2 separate regions of the Homo sapiens genome follow, and region 2 is linked to region 1. A link means that fine-mapping ties the variant in region 1 to the expression of a gene that starts in the linked region. Tissue or cell type: testis. Region 1 holds a variant in brackets; the other region holds the start of a gene. All regions are shown on one strand. Distances are from middle to middle.

Evidence for each region. PIP is the estimated chance that this variant, and not a neighbour inherited with it, causes the effect.
Region 2: RYR1 starts here. The variant in region 1 is fine-mapped to the expression of RYR1 in testis (GTEx, PIP above 0.99).

The regions. Positions count from the first base shown.
Region 1 is chr19:38,461,800-38,469,973 of GRCh38, reverse strand. RYR1 (ryanodine receptor 1) reads right to left here. Exons shown (of 106, transcript NM_000540.3): 21 at 6,447-6,551; 22 at 6,124-6,227; 23 at 5,252-5,335; 24 at 3,576-3,883; 25 at 2,162-2,364; 26 at 834-1,008; 27 at 461-669. Among named protein-coding and RNA genes, the nearest start is that of RYR1, 32 kb to the right of the region's middle. RefSeq lists enhancers at 5,273-5,869, 6,380-6,881. The variant G/A (reference allele first, on the strand shown) is at 3,775.
Region 2 is chr19:38,430,317-38,438,490 of GRCh38, reverse strand. RYR1 (ryanodine receptor 1) reads right to left here and starts at 4,800. Exons shown (of 106, transcript NM_000540.3): 1 at 4,617-4,800. The coding sequence starts at 4,661. RefSeq lists an enhancer at 3,471-4,046 and a silencer at 4,778-4,917.

The DNA of each region.
Region 1 (8,174 bases):
CTCAACCTCCTGAGTAGCTAGGGCTATATGTGCATACTACACACCTTGCTAATTTTTTTTTTTATTTTTTGTAGAGACGGGGTCTCCCTATGTTGCCAAGGCTGGTCTTGAACTCCTGGGCTCAAGGGATCCTCCTGCCTCAGCCTCCCTAAGTGCTGGGATAACAGGCATGAGCTACCATGCCTAGACTTAATTTTTTTTTATTTTTAGAGATGGAGTTTTGCTTGTTGCCCAGGCAGGGTTTCCCTTATTTTATAGGTGAGGCACCTGGACCTCAGGAAGCTGTGGTTTGCCAAAGTTACACCCGGAGTCATACAGCCCGTGAGCCCATCACTCTGACACTTGCTTCCATGTGGTTTGTGTCCTAACATGGAGGGAAAAGAGAAACTCAAAGAAGAGCACTGTGGAAGGAAGGAGCTTTGGAGGCAGATGAGAAGGCATTGAGGGGCTCAGTCCTTACCTCATAGTGAGGGTGTTCAAGGGGCACTGGCTCAAACTGGGGCAGGCCTTTGCTGAACCAGGTGGTGACTGGGCGCTGCATGTTGATGGCAAATGGCTCGAAGCCTTCCTGGAGGCCACAGATGGCAAAGAACCTCAGAGAGCTCACGTCCTGGCCCAGGTTCAGATGACCCACCTGGCCAGGTCCCAAGCTGCAGACGGGCAGGAAGCCTGGTGGGAGGGGATGGATGGGCAGGGGTGAGGGCAGGTGGGCAGGGCAGAGGGAGCCGAGGGGAGGAGGTAGGGATGGGAGAGTTGGAGGCAGAAGGGCAGTGCAGGGTTGGGAGAGACAGAGGAAAACAAGAAAGGGCATGTGAAGGGGTCTCAGCCCTCACCGTCCCCAATCTCAATCTCCCGGAAGGCTGTTTCGGAGCCTGAGTCAGACATGAGGACCTCGCCATTGAGGGTGAAGATAATGGTGTTCTCTGTGAGGTCGATCATACAGCCAACGACATCGCCCGGCTGCCAGGGGCGCCCAAATGGTTCACTGCCCAAGTGCCAGCGCTGGCCCTGTGAGGACAGCCAGAGAAGACATGGTGTGGGGAGACACACAGAGAAATGGAGAGATAAGGAAGCAGGGAGGGAGAGATATATGAAGACAGACATTCGAAGTGTCAGGTTCAGGGCAGGTGGTATGGAAGAGGGGTCACCCCACAGTGTCTCCATCTTTCCTCACATTTGCATCCATGATCACAGGAATTTTTCTCCCCACTAATCTCTGTGTCTCATCCCTTCTGCCTGGGTTCTCTGCTGTTGCCATGGCTAGCATTATGCAGACCACCAAAGTGGTAGTGGGGGGCTGGAAGCAGCAGTAAGTAGAGGGATGGAAAGGAAAAATGAACCTATCAGTGTCCCCATACAGATCCATATATGCTTATATACATGCACAAAATAGATGAGTGGCTAATGAGACAGATAGATGGATGAGAAATTGGGTACATGGCTGGACAGAAGAATGATTGGAAAGTTGAGAGTTTACCTGGGTTGATACAGAGAAAGAACAAAGTGTAAGTAGGGGCAAGCATAAATAAATGGATGACAGATAGAGGGAAGAAGGGAAGGATGGTTGTATAAATGGTTGTTGGATGGGCAGATGGTTATTGGATGGATGGATGGACAGTTGGCTGGAAGAATGGATGGATGGATGGTTGGTTGGATGGATGAGGGATGAATGGATGATGGATGGATGGTTGAATGCATGGATGGATGCATGGTTGGCTGGTCAGATGGATAGATGATGGATGGATGGATGGATGGATGGATGGATGATGGGACTATATGTGCATGCTACCTTGCCTAGCTAATTTTTTTATTTTTTGTAGAGATGGGGTCTCCCTATGTTGGCTGGATGAATGGATGGTTGGTTAGCTGGATGGATGGTTGGATGGATGGATGGATGGATGGATGGATGGATGGATGGATGGATGATGGATGGATGGATGGATGGATGAATTGTTGGTTGGATAGATGGATGTCTGATAGATCGATGGATGGATGGATGGATGAATCATTGGTTGAATGGATGGATAGATGGGTGGATGAGTGGTACAGTAGATGCATGAAGTGGGGACAGAGTGAGGCACAGACAGAGGCAGGGCCAGAGTAGACAAGCTGTGGGAGAGACCACAGGACCTGGCAGAATGGTGCCCAGGGAGGTACCCACGCGGTGCCCATTGAAGACATAGGCCAGCTCGTCAGCTCCCAGCTCTACATCAGGCCTCAGCTCGGGCCTCGCCCAGCCCACGCGCATCTCGCCTGTGGTGACTGCTTCAAACTCGAAGTACCAGCGGCCGCTCTGCACTGTATAGGATTTCTCTGCCCGGAAGATGCGCACCCGGTCACAACGAGACTGGTTCTCCACCTGACCTATAAATGAGGCCAGGCAGAGTCAGAGAGGCTAGGGAAGATGTGGATCCCAAGACATCGAGAAGTTGGTAGAAGACAGGCTTTGGGGGACAGTAAGGGCTTTGGGGAACTGTTGGAAGAGGGTCAATTTCTTGGAGTTAGAGGAGAATTGGGGAACCTCAGAAAAGTCAGAGAGAGGCAGGGACCTGTTGAGAGAGACCCCCATCTCTGTAGCAGTCAGAATTCTCAGAAAACAGGGATACTGGCAGAGACACAGAAGGAAAAAGCCAGCTCAGTGAACTGGTCAGAGTTATGGTCTGGGGTTAAGGGTCAAGATCAGGGTTGATTAGAATGAAGGGCTGAGACCAGGATTGGAGGGTCAGAGCCAGGATTATGGAAGGGATGGAAATTCAGGTTGGGGCCAAGAGTTGAGAAACTGAAGGTTGGGGACCATGGCCAGGGTTTGGGGTCAAGGCTGGGATTGGAAGCCAGTGATAGGTCAGGAGTCAGGTTAGGGGTAGGGGTGACCAGGCTCTCTAAGCCCTTGGTTGGGTGCCTTCATGTGGTAGCTACAGTTCAGAGATTAGTGATTAGGGATCAAAGCTAGAGGTCAGGAATCAGAGTCAAAGGTGGGGTTGGCACTCATTGGGTTCCTAGGCTGACGGCTCTGGTTTGCAGTCATAGCCCAGGCAGGGCTGGCGTCAGGTAAAGGGAAGTGGTTCCATCAGGTTCCGAGTTGGAACTGGGGTAAGGCTCAGAGTTTCGGGGAGGGGTCAGTCCTTTCTGACCTCCTGGTCAGTCTGCTCGATGTGATAGATATAGCCCATTTGGGCCAGGTGCAGTGGCTCACGCCTGTAATCCCAGCACTTTGGGAGTCCGAGGCAGGCGGATCACGAGGTCAGGAGATCGAGACCATCCTGGCTAAAACGGTGAAATCCTGTCTCTACTAAAAATACAAAAAATTAGCCAGGCGTGGTGGCACCCGCCGGTAATCCCAGCTACTCGGAAGGCTGAGGCAGGAGAATGGTGTGAACCCAGGAGGTGGAGCTTGCAGTGAGCAGAGATCGCGCCATTGCACTCCAGCCTGGGGACAGCGAGACTCCGTCTCAAAAAAAAAAAAAAAAAAAAAGATATAGCCCATTTGGGGGCTGAGTCAGGTCAGAGATCAGGGATCGGGGCTGGGGTCAGAGTTGGGGTAGGAGTCAGGGCCAGGGCCAGGGGTGAGCACTCACTGGGCTCCTGGTCAGGAGGCTCGATGTTGTAGCCGTAGCCCAGGAGGGTGCGCACGGCCTGGCAGAGGCTGTCCCGGTTGCTGCGCTTGGTGGCTTCATCCAGCAGGCGGTAGGGCACCAGCCGAGGGTTTCGGCGCGCTGGGATGTCCTGCACTGCGCTGTAGCTCCAGCCCTGGCCCACGCGGTCTCGGGCCCACAC[G/A]TTGTGCCCATTTTCTGCCAGACGGTCCACCAGTGTCGTCTGCGCCGGCGTCAGCCGCACGTGGCTCAGGTCCAGCGGAGCCGGCTTGTACCCATTGCTCATCATATACCTGCGGGCATGGTAGGGCTCCATGGGACAAGGCCCTCACCTCCACTTCCGGGCTCTGCACTATATGGGATCCCTGACTGCTGACCCTTGTCCCAGCTTCGGCGTTTCTGACCTTTGATATAATGTTGCAGTTCTATGAAATTTTAGAATAAGTTTTGAGATCCCTGGCTTCTGACCCTAGGATCCTGGGACCCTAGCAAGGGCTTTGACATCAATGACCTCTAGCCCCCTTTGTCTTGACTTTGGGACCCCTATCTCTAACCCCGGAACTCTCTCAGACCTCTCACCACTAACTTTGAGGTTTTTCTCTCTCTTTGTTTTTTTTTTGATACGGAGTTTCACTCTTGTTGCCCAGGCTGGAGTGCAATGGCACGATCTCGGCTCACTGCAACCTCCACCTCCTGGGTTCAAGTGATTCTCCTGCCTCAGCCTCCGGAGTAGCAGGGATTACAGGCATGTGCCACCACACCCGGCTAATTTTGTATTTTTGGTAGAGGGTGGGTTTCACCGTGTTGGTCAGGCTGGTCTCGAATTCCCGACCTCAGGTGATCCGCCCGCCTCGGCCTCCCAAAGTGCTCGGATTACAGGCGTGAGCGACTGAGCCCGGCTCTTTTTGTTTTTTTGAGGTTGTTTTCTCGTTCTGTCACCCAGGCTGGAGTGCGGTGGTGCAATCATGGCTCACTGCAGCCTCAAACTCCTGGGTTCAAGCAATTCTCCCATCTCAACCTCCCAAGTTGCTGGAACTACAGGCATGTCCCACCACCATGTCCTGCTAATTTTTAAATTTTTTGTAGAGGGGTCTCACCATGTTGCCCAGGCTGGTCTTGAACTGGGCTCAAGTGATCTTCCTGCCTCAACCTCCCAAAGTGCTGGGATTACAGGTGTGAGCCACCTCACCCAGCCCACTCTGAGGTTTCTTACTCTGATCCCAGTCCTCATCCACCCCAAACTCCTGGGTCTGGAGTCCTTGACCTCTGAACTCAGGACGTGTAACTGCTCACCTATAATTTCAGGATCCCTTACTTAGACGACTCCAACGACCTCCAGATTCTCACCTCTTACCATTGGCCCCTTACCCCTTACGTGGACATGTGACCTCTGCTCTCATTTTCCCTGACTCTAGGCAGACCCTGAGCCTGGATCCTGGACTCATACCCTCCCTCTCTCTCTCTCTGAAACTCCTAACTCCTCAATCCTGGACATTCACCTCTGACCCCAGAGCCCTGACCCTATGACCTTCACCCTAACCCAAGTCTCCTTCCTCCCTAACCTCAGCCTCCCCACAAGACCCCTCGACCTCCCCAGCCCTTAGCACAGCATCCCCAGCCCCCAGTCCATCCCCAGACGGGACCTGGCTGCCCACACTCACGTCTTGGGGAGTTTTGTCTTCTTCAGGTTGTCCTCCGCCTTCTCATCCGCCATGCCCACGTGGCAGCCCAGAGCCAGCAGAGTCCTGGGGGTGGGGGAGTGGAGGCGACAGGTCACGCCCCTCAGAGCTCCCTGCCCCGTCTCCTCCCACGGCCTCAGGGTCTCCAGCTCCCTCTACCTCTGCTGCTTCAGTGCCTGGGGCGCTCTGGCCCTGTCTCTCTTGATCCTGGCCTCAGGCTTCATGACTTCTGTCTTTCCCTGCGCCTTGTCTGTATAACTAACTATGTCTGTCTTTTCCTGTCTGCCACTTTCTCCTGTCTCCCTGTCTCTTTCTGCATCTCTCTCTCTTTCCATCCCCACCTTTTCTTTCTCTCTCTTTCTGCCTCTGTCCCTTTCTTGCTCCCCGTTTGCTTCTTTTTTTTTTTTTTTTTTTTTTTTTTTTTTTCTGAAACGGTGTCTCGCTCTGTCGCCCAGGCTGGAGTGCAGTAGTGTGATCTCGGCTCGCTGCAACCTCTGCCTCCCAGGTTCAAATGATTCTCCTGCCTCAGCCTCCTGAGGAGCTGGGATTACAGAGGTGCACCACCACGCCCGGCTAAGTTTTGTATTTTTAGTAGAGACGGGGTTTTGCCATGTTGGCCAGACTGGTCTCGAACTGCTGACCTCAAGTGATCCACCCGTCTCGGCCTCCCAAAGTGCTAGGATTACAGGTGTGAGCCACCGTGCCCGGCCACTCCCCATTTGTTTATGTCTCACAATCCCTGTCCCCTCCATCCTTCTCTCTCTCAGTCTCTACCTCCTGCCCTGTCTCTCCATGCCTCCCTCCCCCACCGCACCAGCAGCCAGCCCCAACCCCCGGCTCCCCTGGGCCCTCACTTGAGCGTCTCCCCAGACATCTGCAGGTTGTAGTTCCTCTCAGGCTCTGGAAGGCTGTGGAAGTCCACAAGACACGGGTGCAGCCTCTTGTTGTCATCCCGAACCTGGAGAAAACCCAGGGTCAACTCCATGTGCTCCCCTTTCCTTCCCACTCCCCACATGCCCAGACTATGACCCCTGACCTCCAACCCTAGTTCTGCCACCCTCAGTCCAAGGACCCCCTGGTGCCCTGTGGTCCCTCCCTCCTCTCCGCCGGTGAGCCGCTCTCCCTCCTGGCACCGCAAGTCTAGCCGGCCTCCCGCAGGCTGCAGGCAGCCCCTCACCGGGCCGTAGGTCCAGCCCTGCTCGATGCGGGTTAGCGCCCAGAGCTCGTGGATGTTCTCCGCCAGCTTCTCCCGAATGCGCTCCAGATGGGGCGGCAGGACAATCTAGAGGCAGAGGGACGTTCTTGAGACCCCAAGGTCCCTCTACCCTCCTCCATCATGACCCCTCTTTCCAAGAACACCTGTGAGCCCTGGGAGGCTCCTCCAGCACCCCCTTTCCCACCATCCAGCAGCCCTGCTCCCCATCCCTCGCCTTGACTCCAGGGTTGACACTCAGATGGGTGAGGGCTTAGCATTCTCAGAATTAAGGAATTATCCAGGGCCAGCCGTAGTGGCTCACATCTGTAATCCCAGCACTTTGGGAGGCTAAGTGGGGGGGGGGGGGGCAGATCGCCTGAGGTCAGGAGTTCAAGACCAGCCTAGGCAACACGGTGAAACACCTTCTCTTCTAAAAATACAAAAAATTAGCCAGATGTGGTGGTGCGCACCTGTAGTCCCAGTTACTTGGGAGGCTAAGGCAGGAGAATTGCTTGAACTCTGGAGGCAGAGGTTGCAGTGAGCCAAGATTGTGCCACTGCACTTCAGCCTGGGCAACAGAGCAAGACTCTGTCTCCAAAAAAAAAAAAAAAAAAAAAAGAAGAGAGAGTATTAAGGAATTATCTGGGACGGGTCTGTCTCCCCCGTGGACTGGGAGCTCCATGAGGGCAGGGCCTGGGGCTGCCCTGGTCTCCACCAAGTCCCCAGCCCTATCCAGCCCAGAACCAGACTCAGACCCAGAAGAGAGGCTCAGGAAATGTTTGCTGAATGAAAAGAATGGAGGAGTCTCCTTCCTTCTCCGTATGAGGATCATAGCGATACCTAATAAGGACTCAGTGAGATCATTAATGTAAATTACTAAATGTTACATAGTTAATATCGATGCCTGGCAGAGGGTAAGAGCCTAGTAGACAGTAGCGGTGTTGGCGTTCCGCAGGCAAGAGGCAATGATGGTTTGGACTTGGGCGGGACATGGGGATGAGGAAAGCGGGGTCGGGGGGATGTCTGGGAGGCCGAGTGGACAGCCCACGAGGCTGACAGGCTGGGGGATGGGGACAGAGGCATCCAGGGTGAGGCCCAGGGCACTGGTCTGGGGACAGGGGGATGAAGTCACCCCCGCAGATGATATCACTGCTACTAATAATGAGTGACTGTCTTGAGTGCTTACTGTTTAATCAGGACTGGACTAAGCATCTTGCCTATATCCATTCATCTTACCTTCACAACAATGAACAATGCTATCAGATATCAGGGTGTTATCCCCTTTTCCTCACGGAGGAACAAACTGAGGCTCAGGGAGGGGAGGTCACATGCCCAAGATCACGTGACTGAAAACCAAACCTTTGCTGTCAGGCTTTTAAACCTAACCTATATTCCCTCCTATAGGGACATGCTTGGAGGGAAGGCAAAAACAGTCCTTTCTTTCTTTCTTCTTTTGAGATGGAGTCTTGCTCTGTCGCCCAGGCTGGAGTGCAGTGGTGCGATCTCGGCTCACTGCAACCTCCACCTCCCGGGTTCAAGTGATTCTCCTGCCTCAGCCTCCTGAGTAGCTGGGATTACAGGTGCCTGCCACCATGCCTGGCTCATTTTTGTATTTTCAGTAGAGATGGGGTTTCACCATGTTGGCCAGGCTGGTCTTGAATTCCTGACTTTAGGTGATCTGCCCGCCTCAGCCTCCCAAAGTGCTGAGAT
Region 2 (8,174 bases), 31 kb after region 1:
CCAAGCCTGGGAAATCGAGGCTGCAGTGAGTCATAATCAAGCCCCACCTCCCTGGGGCCCCTGAGACAGATTGAGACCATGTCTCAAAAGGAAAAAAAAAAAATCACGGCCCTCAGGGAGCTTAAATCCTCATGGTGGAGACAGGGAATAAACAGGTGAATTAATATGTAATGTTAATGTCAGTGATAGGTGTTATAGAAAAAATAACCCAGGCTGATGTAAGAGAGTGGCTTTTAGGATGGGGATGAGATCAGTGAGGGAGTGAAGTGACAGCCTCTCCAAGGAGGTGACATTTGAGTTGAGCCTTGTCCAAATAACAAGAAGGAATCAGGCCTGCTCATCTCTGGGGTAAGAGGAGGGAGTCTGGGTGCTGGGGTGTTGAGGGACAGCACAGGAGATGGAGCAGGATGGTGGCCGCAAGGAGGAGGGGCAAACAGGGAGGAGATGAGGTCAGAGAGATACTTGCATGGGCCCCTTGAAAAATAACTTTTTTTTTTTTTTTAAGAGACTGGGTCTCACTCTGTCTCCTGGGGTGGAGTGCAGTGGTACGATCATAGCTCACTGCAGCCTTGGACTCCTAGGCTGAGTGATCCTCTCCATTCAGCCTCCTGAGAAGCTATGACTGCAGGCTCATGCCACCACACCCAGCTAATTTAAGATATATATATTTTTGTAGACACAGGGTCTTGCTCTGTTGCCCAGACTGGAGTGCAGTGGCGAGATCACAGCTCACTGCAGCTTCCGACTCCTGGTTTCAAGTGATCTTCCCACCTCAGCCTCCCAAGTAGCTGGTACTACAGGTGCACACTGCCACGCCCAGCTAAAGTTTAACATTTTTTGTAAAGACAAGGTCTCCCTATGTTGCCCAGGCTGTTTTTGAACTCCCGGCCTCAAGCAATCGTCCTGCTTCAGCCTCCCAAAGCGAAGGGATTACAGGTGTGAGCCATGGGGTCTGGCTATTGTATATAATCTTGTCCCCATTTTCCAGATGAGAACACTGAGGCTCAGAGAGAAAAATAAAAATCACTTGCCCCAAATTAGGAAGCAGGCAAATGGCAAAGCCAGAGTGCAAAGCAGCGACAGAGAGCCCAATCATTACCACATTGATTCTCAAACTTTTCCTGAATTAGAATGAAGGCAGGCTGGGCGAGGTGGCTCATTCCTGTAATCCCAGCACTTTGGGAGGCCAAGGTGGGCGCATCACTTGAGGTCAGGAGTTCGAGACCAGCCTGGCCAACATGGTGAAACCCCATCTCTATTAAAAGTACAAAAATTAGCCGGGCGTAGTGGTGCATGCCTGTAATCCCAGCTACTCGGGAGGCTGAGACAGGAGAATCGCTTGAACCCAGGAGGCGGAGGTTGCAGTGAGCCGAGATTGTGCCATTGCACTCCAGCCTGGGCTACAAAGGAAGACTCCATCTTAAAAAAAAAAGAAAAAGAAAAAAAAAATGAAGGAAGCGGAGGGTTCTGGTTAAAAATATAGCTTCCCTGCTGGCCCAGTCCCCTACCACCATCAAGAGCCTGATTTGGGGTCAGCAGGGAATACGTACTGTTTACCAGACCCCAGGAGCTTCTAACTTGGGCCAGGGTTTGAGAAACCCCAGCCTGGGTAAGGGTAGAGGTCACCACCCACCAAAGGGAAGTGAAATCAGTTTGGGGGGGCTGTGGCCATCATACTTAACCAAACGAAGCAAAATGGAGCAAGAATAGAAAATCACAGCGTGCCCATCATGCTTCAGGGGCCATCTACATTTTATGAGACTTGTTTCAGTTAAAAATAGGTACAAGTGAATGGTCACAGGCCCTGTGTTGTCTATAATAGTAAAAATTGGAGACGACTCAAATGTCCATCAGCAGGTGAACTGATAAACACACCACAGTATAGTCGCACAATGGAATAATATTCGGCAACAAAAAGCAACAAACTCAATACATGCTACATGGATGAATGTCAAAAATATTATGCTGAGTGAAAGAAGAAAGGCCGGGCATGGTGGCTTATGCCTGTAATCCCAAAACTTTGGGAGGCCAAGGCCGGAGGATTTCTTGAGCCCAGGAGTTTGACACCAGCCTGGGCAATATAGTGAGACCTCACCTCTACAAAAAATTTTACAAATTAGCCAAGCATGGTGCTATGCACGTGTAGTCCCAGCTACTCAGGAGGCTGAGGTGGGAGGATCACTGGAGCCTGGGAAGTGGAGGTTGCGTTGAACCAACCACCAAACTGCTGTACTCCAGCCTGGGCAACAGATTGAGACTCTGTCTCAAAAAGAAAAAAAAAGGCCGGGCGTGGTGGCTCACACCTGTAATCCCAGCACCTTGGGAGGCCAAGATGGGTGGATCATCTGAGGTCAGGAGTTCAAGACCAGCCTGGCCAACATGGTGAAACCCCATCTCTACTAAAAATACAAAAAATTAGCTCGGCTTGGTGGCACGCGCCTGTAATCCCAGCTACTCAGGAGGCTGAGGCAGAAGAATCGCTTGAACCCAGGAGGCAGAGGTTGCAGTGAGCTGCGATCACGCCATTGCACTCCAGTCTGGGCAACAAGAGTGAAACTCCATCTCAAAAAAATAAATAAATAAACAAAAACAAAACAACTCATTGAACACATAAACTGGGTAAAATTTATTGCAGGTCAATTATACCTCAATAAAGTTGGTTTTTAGTCATGTCTATGCATGTGTGCATGTACTGAGTTGTAAGACAGAATGTTTCTTATGGGCGGGATGTGGTCCAGAAGGTTTTTTGTTCTGAGATGGAGTCTCGCCCTGTCGCCCAGGCTGGAGTGTGCAGTGGCGCAATCTCGGCTCACTGCAACCTCTGCCTCCCAGGTTCAAGCAATCCTCCCACTTCAGCCTCCCGAGTAGCTAAGATTACAGGCATGCACCACCACGCCTGGCTAATATTTTTTTGTATTTTTAGTAGAGACGGGGTTTCACCATGTTGGCCAGGCTGGTCTCAAACTCCTGACCTCAAGTGATCCGCTCACCTTGGCCTCCCAAAGTGCTGAGATTACAGGCATGAGCCACTGAGCCCAGCCTCCAGAAAGTTTTGAGAAATCCACCACGACCTCAGTAACAATCAGAAAAACTGACCCAGTCTGGGGTGGAGAGATTCCAGGGCCAAGCCTCCAGAACCCTAACGCTGACTACTTTGGCAAGTCTGGGCCCAGATTTTCTCTGGTGAAGGCAATGGGGCTGGGCACCAGGGGCATCCAGAGATGCCACTTCCTGGCCTTGACCTTGGGTGAGTGATTCTACCATTCGGGCCTTGGTTTCCCTCAAATCTGTCAGGGAGATAAAGATAGGACCCTACCTCAGAAGACAGGGCAGCAAGGATATAATTAGATGTCTCAGGAGGCAGAGGCCCAGGGCACAGGGCCTGGTTTAGAGCGACAGCTCAAGAGCCAGTGGCCATGGCCATGGTCTTATTAGGGCTGGGGAGGGCCCGACCCATGGTGTCTGCTGAGGGGCTGGGGCTGGGGAGAGAGTCTCGGCTGAAGCTAGGCCCCTTCCCAGCTGTCCCCATCCTTCACTACCAGCCCCAGCTGTTTGTTCCTCTCTCCCAGGAAACCGGACCCGGCTCGCCAGGGTCCTATTCTGGGGCAGGAATGCTGTGTCAGCATTTCCTGTGTGGCTCCAGGGCCCCGGGGGGAGGGGCGGGGCTAGCGTCTGGTCAGCAGACCTAGCCCAGAGGAGAGGACGTCCCCTCCCATATTTACGACCCCACACCCTGCGGAGCCACTGGGAGGGGAAGATGGGAAGGACAAGGAGATGGCAGCCCCTCCTCCCTCTCATCCCCTCCCCATCCCCTGCCCAGGCCCCAGAAAAGCCGGCTATTCTGGGAGGGACACCTGTTGTTCCAATTCCCATCCCTGCCCCCAGCTGGGGCTCAGATGCAGGGAGTAACCCAGCTAGAGAGACAGCGAAAATCAGAGGGCCTTAAGCTAAGAAACAGAGACAGGGAGACTGAGATGGAGGAAGAGACAGAGACATGGAGACACCCAAAGAGACAGATGGGGAGAGACACCACCCAGAGACCCTGCAAGACCATTAGCAGCCATTGGGAGCAGCCCTCCTGCCCAAAACGAAGAAGGAAAGAAAGACCCAGAACCCAAGAGATCCCTCCCCCACAAGACCCTCAAGGGCTAGGAGTTGGAAGCAGCTGTGTCCTCCAGCTCACTCCAGCTCCCTTCTCAAGAATTTAAATAGGTCAGAGTCTGGAGCAAAAAGAGAATTAGGGCTAAGGTGGGGGTGGGGGGATGGCTAAATCAAGCCCAGGAATTAGAACCACCTTCCCCAAGTGCCTGCTTCCAAGATGGTGTGAGGGTGTGCTCCCTCGGGGGTCCTTCTTGTGGGGGACAAATCGCTAAAGTCAGAAGAGAGGGCAACCGAAGATCCCTTTCCCATTCTGGAGTCCCCAATCCTACTAATTCTCTGTAGTGAGAAAGGTGAAGGAGACTAAAAGACAGAGTGACAGTCACTCAAAGTGACATAGGAAGAGACCTCGAGTCTCAGAGACCACCAGCAAGCCGGACAGGGACATTCAGAGACAGAGAGACCCTCAGAGAGCCCCAAGAGATAGCCCCACAGGCCCCTAACCCAGAGATACGCACCGTCCGCAGGAACTGGACCTCGTCTTCGCCTTCTGCGTCACCCATGATGTCGAGGTCGGAAGCCCAGGGTCTGAGGTCGGGGAACAGAGGGAGGGGGCTGCGGGCTGGGCGGGAGGGCTGGGGGCGGGCTGGGGTCGGAGACCTCTGGAGACACCAGAGGCACCCGCGAGGTAGATGGAACTGCGAGGAGTACACGCATGCTGGACAGAGATGGGAGGAAGTCCCCGCCCCCGGGCCCCATTGGACCAGGACTCCCCGGCCACTCCCCTTCGCCGGAGCCCTGCCCACATACCCCAAATCTTGGCTGGAGGTTTGCTTGGCCGTTGGCCGCCGGAGGTGGGGTGGGAGAGAGAGTATCTAGGAGGTACCTGCGCTTTCTCCCCACCACGGTAAGTAACGTGCCATCATTCTCCCATTTCACAGAGGGCAGACTGAGGCTCTGAGTGGGGAAGTTCTTGCAAGATATCACGCAGCAGAGCAGGGATGTGCACCAGATCTCCTGACTTTAAAAAGCACCAAACATAGTGATTAAGAACAAGGACTCCGGCCGGGAGTGGTGGCTCACCCCTGTAATCTCAGCACTTTGGGACGCCGAGGTGGGTGGATCACTTGAGGTCAGGAGTTCGAGGCCAGCCTGGCCAACATGGTGAAACCCCCGTCTCTACTAAAAGTACAAAAATTAGCCAGGCGTGGTGACACATGCTTGTAATCCCAGCCACTTGGGAAACTGAGGCAGGAGAATTGCTTGAACTCCTTGAATTCGGGAGGCAGAAGCTGCAGTGAGCCGAGATTGAGCCACTGCACTCCAGCCTGGGCGAGACTTCGTCTGAAAAAAAAAAAAAAAAGAACAAGGACTCCGACTCCAAGCCAGATAATCTGGATCTGAATCCCACCCAGCCTTGCCACTTCCTTGAGTTACATGGATAAGCCACTTAGCTTCTCTGTGCCTCGGTTTCCCCATCCAGTAAGGGGAATATTAATAGTACCGACCTCACGTGGTTGTTGGGAGAGTTAAATGAGATAATTAATTAAATGAGATAAAACTTAAAACAGTGCCAGTGCCTGGTTAATGTAATGTAAGTGTTGCTATTATTATTATTTATTTATTTATTTATTTATTTTGAGACGGACTCTTGCTCTTGTTGCCCAGACTGGAGTGCAGTGGCAAGATCTTGACTCACTGCAACCTCCACCTCCCAGGTTCAAACGATTCTCCTCCTCAGCCTCCTGAGTAGCTGGGATTACAGGCACCTGCCAACACACCCGGCTAATTTTTGTATTTTTGGTAGAGACGGGGTTTCACCATGTTGGCCAGGCTGGTCTCGAACTCCTGACCTCATGATTCGCCCACCTCAGCCTCCCAAAGTGCTGGGATTACAGGTGTAAACCACCACGTCCAGCCCTATTAAAATTATTACTAGGCCAGACACAGTGGCTCATGCCTGTAATCCCAGCACGTTGGGAGGCCAAGGCAGACAGATCACTTGAAGCCAGGAATTTGAGACCAGCTTGGTCAACATGGTGAAACTCTGACTCTACTAAAAACACAGAAATTAGCTGGGCATGGTGTCACACGACTCTAATCCCAGCTACTTGGGAGGCTGAGGAACAAGAATCATTTAAGCCCAGGAGGCAGAGGTTGTAGTGAGCCGAGATTGTACCACTACACTCCAGCCCAGGTGACAGAGCAAGGCTCCACCTCAAAAAAAAAAAAAAAAATTTTTTTTATTAACATGTAGTGGTATACAGTAAGTTATATAAAACAATATCCCATAGTTAAACAAAATTACATAGAAACCGTTCTTCAAGGTATAGCAGGTTTCTAGGTGTTCCATAATTAAATACTGATGTTAACACAACTGCAATAAATAGCACAAAAGTTTGTGTCATATTATGGAATTATATAATTTGGCATTATATAATGTATAATTATATAATTATATATTTAGGCTAATATAATTATACAGTACAATACAATTCTATGTTGTATCTGTTATACATTATCCAACGCATAGTTGTATATTAAATATTGTTTTTCCCTAAAACTTTATGTAAATGTAAAATGATTCTGTGTCATTGAGCATTATATCATAAGATATTAATAGTGTTTCTTATTTTTGTCAGTCATCATTATGTGTTTTAAGACCTACCCTTGTTGCTCTGTGGACACCTGGTGTGTGACAGTGGTGGCTTTGCAGGATTCTCTGGTGACTGATCCCTTCTGTTTTTCCACCTACCCCTACTGGGAGCGGACACCCAGGCTGCCTCCAGCTCTCCCGAAATAATGCTGGAGGGAACATCTGTGTATTGGTCCCCCAGGAAGCTGAGGGAGAATGTTTTATTGTGCGTACCCAGAAGCTAATTGCTGGGTGACATATCCATGCGCACCATTTGTGTAAGTAGTGCTGGGTAGCCCTCGGAATGGCTACTCACTACCAGTGCATGAGGGTCCCCGGGTCCCCATATCCCCAACCCTCATGTGGCATTTCCAACTTAACTAATTTTTGCCAGATTTATATAGGGTGACTCACTGTTTTTTAATTTATTTTCTCTATTTTATTTTTAGAGATGAGATCTCACTTTGTTGCCCAGGCTGGGGTGCAGTGGCGCAATTATGGTTCACTGCTGCCCGGAACTCCTGGGCTCAAGGGATCCTCCCACCTCAACCTCCCGAGCAGCTGGGACAACAGGCTTGTGCCACCACGCCCAACTAACTTTTAAATTTTTTATAGAGGTGGGGTCTTACTATATTGCCCAGGCTGGTATTGAACTGCTGGTCTCAAGTGATCCTCCTACCTCAGCTTCCCAAAGTGTTAGGATTACAGGCAAGAGCCACCGCGCCTGGACTCGCTGTCATTTTAATTTCCACTTCCCTGATGAGTTACCAACAATTTCTAGCATCTTCTCAAGTGCCTATCAGAGTTTTGGGTTTCTTTGTTATCTGCTCATTGTGATCCCTGCTCACTTTTTTTTGTTTTTTTTTTTTGAGACAGAGTCTTGCTCTGTCGCCCAGGCTGGAGTTCAGTGGCACCATCTCGGCTCACTGCAACCTCCGCCTCCTGGGTTCAAGCAATTCTCCTGCCTCAGCACCCCCAGGACTACAGGCGCATACTGCCACACCTGGCTAATTTCTTTTGTATTTTAGTAGAGATCGGGTTTCACTGTGTTGCCCAGGCTGGTCTCGAACTCCTGAGCTCAGCCAATCCGCCTGCCTTGGCCTCCCAAAGTGCTAGGATTGCAGGCGTGAGCCACTGTGCCCAGCCTAATTTTTGTATTTTGAGTAGAGACGGGGTTTCGCCATGTTGGCCAGGGTGGTCTTGAACTCTTGACCTCAGGTAGTCTACCCACCTCGGTCTCCCAAAGTGCTGAGATTACAAGCATGTAATCTTACATTATAGGCGCAGGAGCCACTGAGCCCGGCCATTTTTCTATTATGGTTGCTGTCTTTTTCGCTTGCTGATTTGCAGCTGTTCCTTTTATATTCTTTTTTTTTTTTTTTTTTTTTAGATGGAGTCCCATTCTGTCTCCCAGGCTGGAGTGCAGTGGCTCAATCCCAGC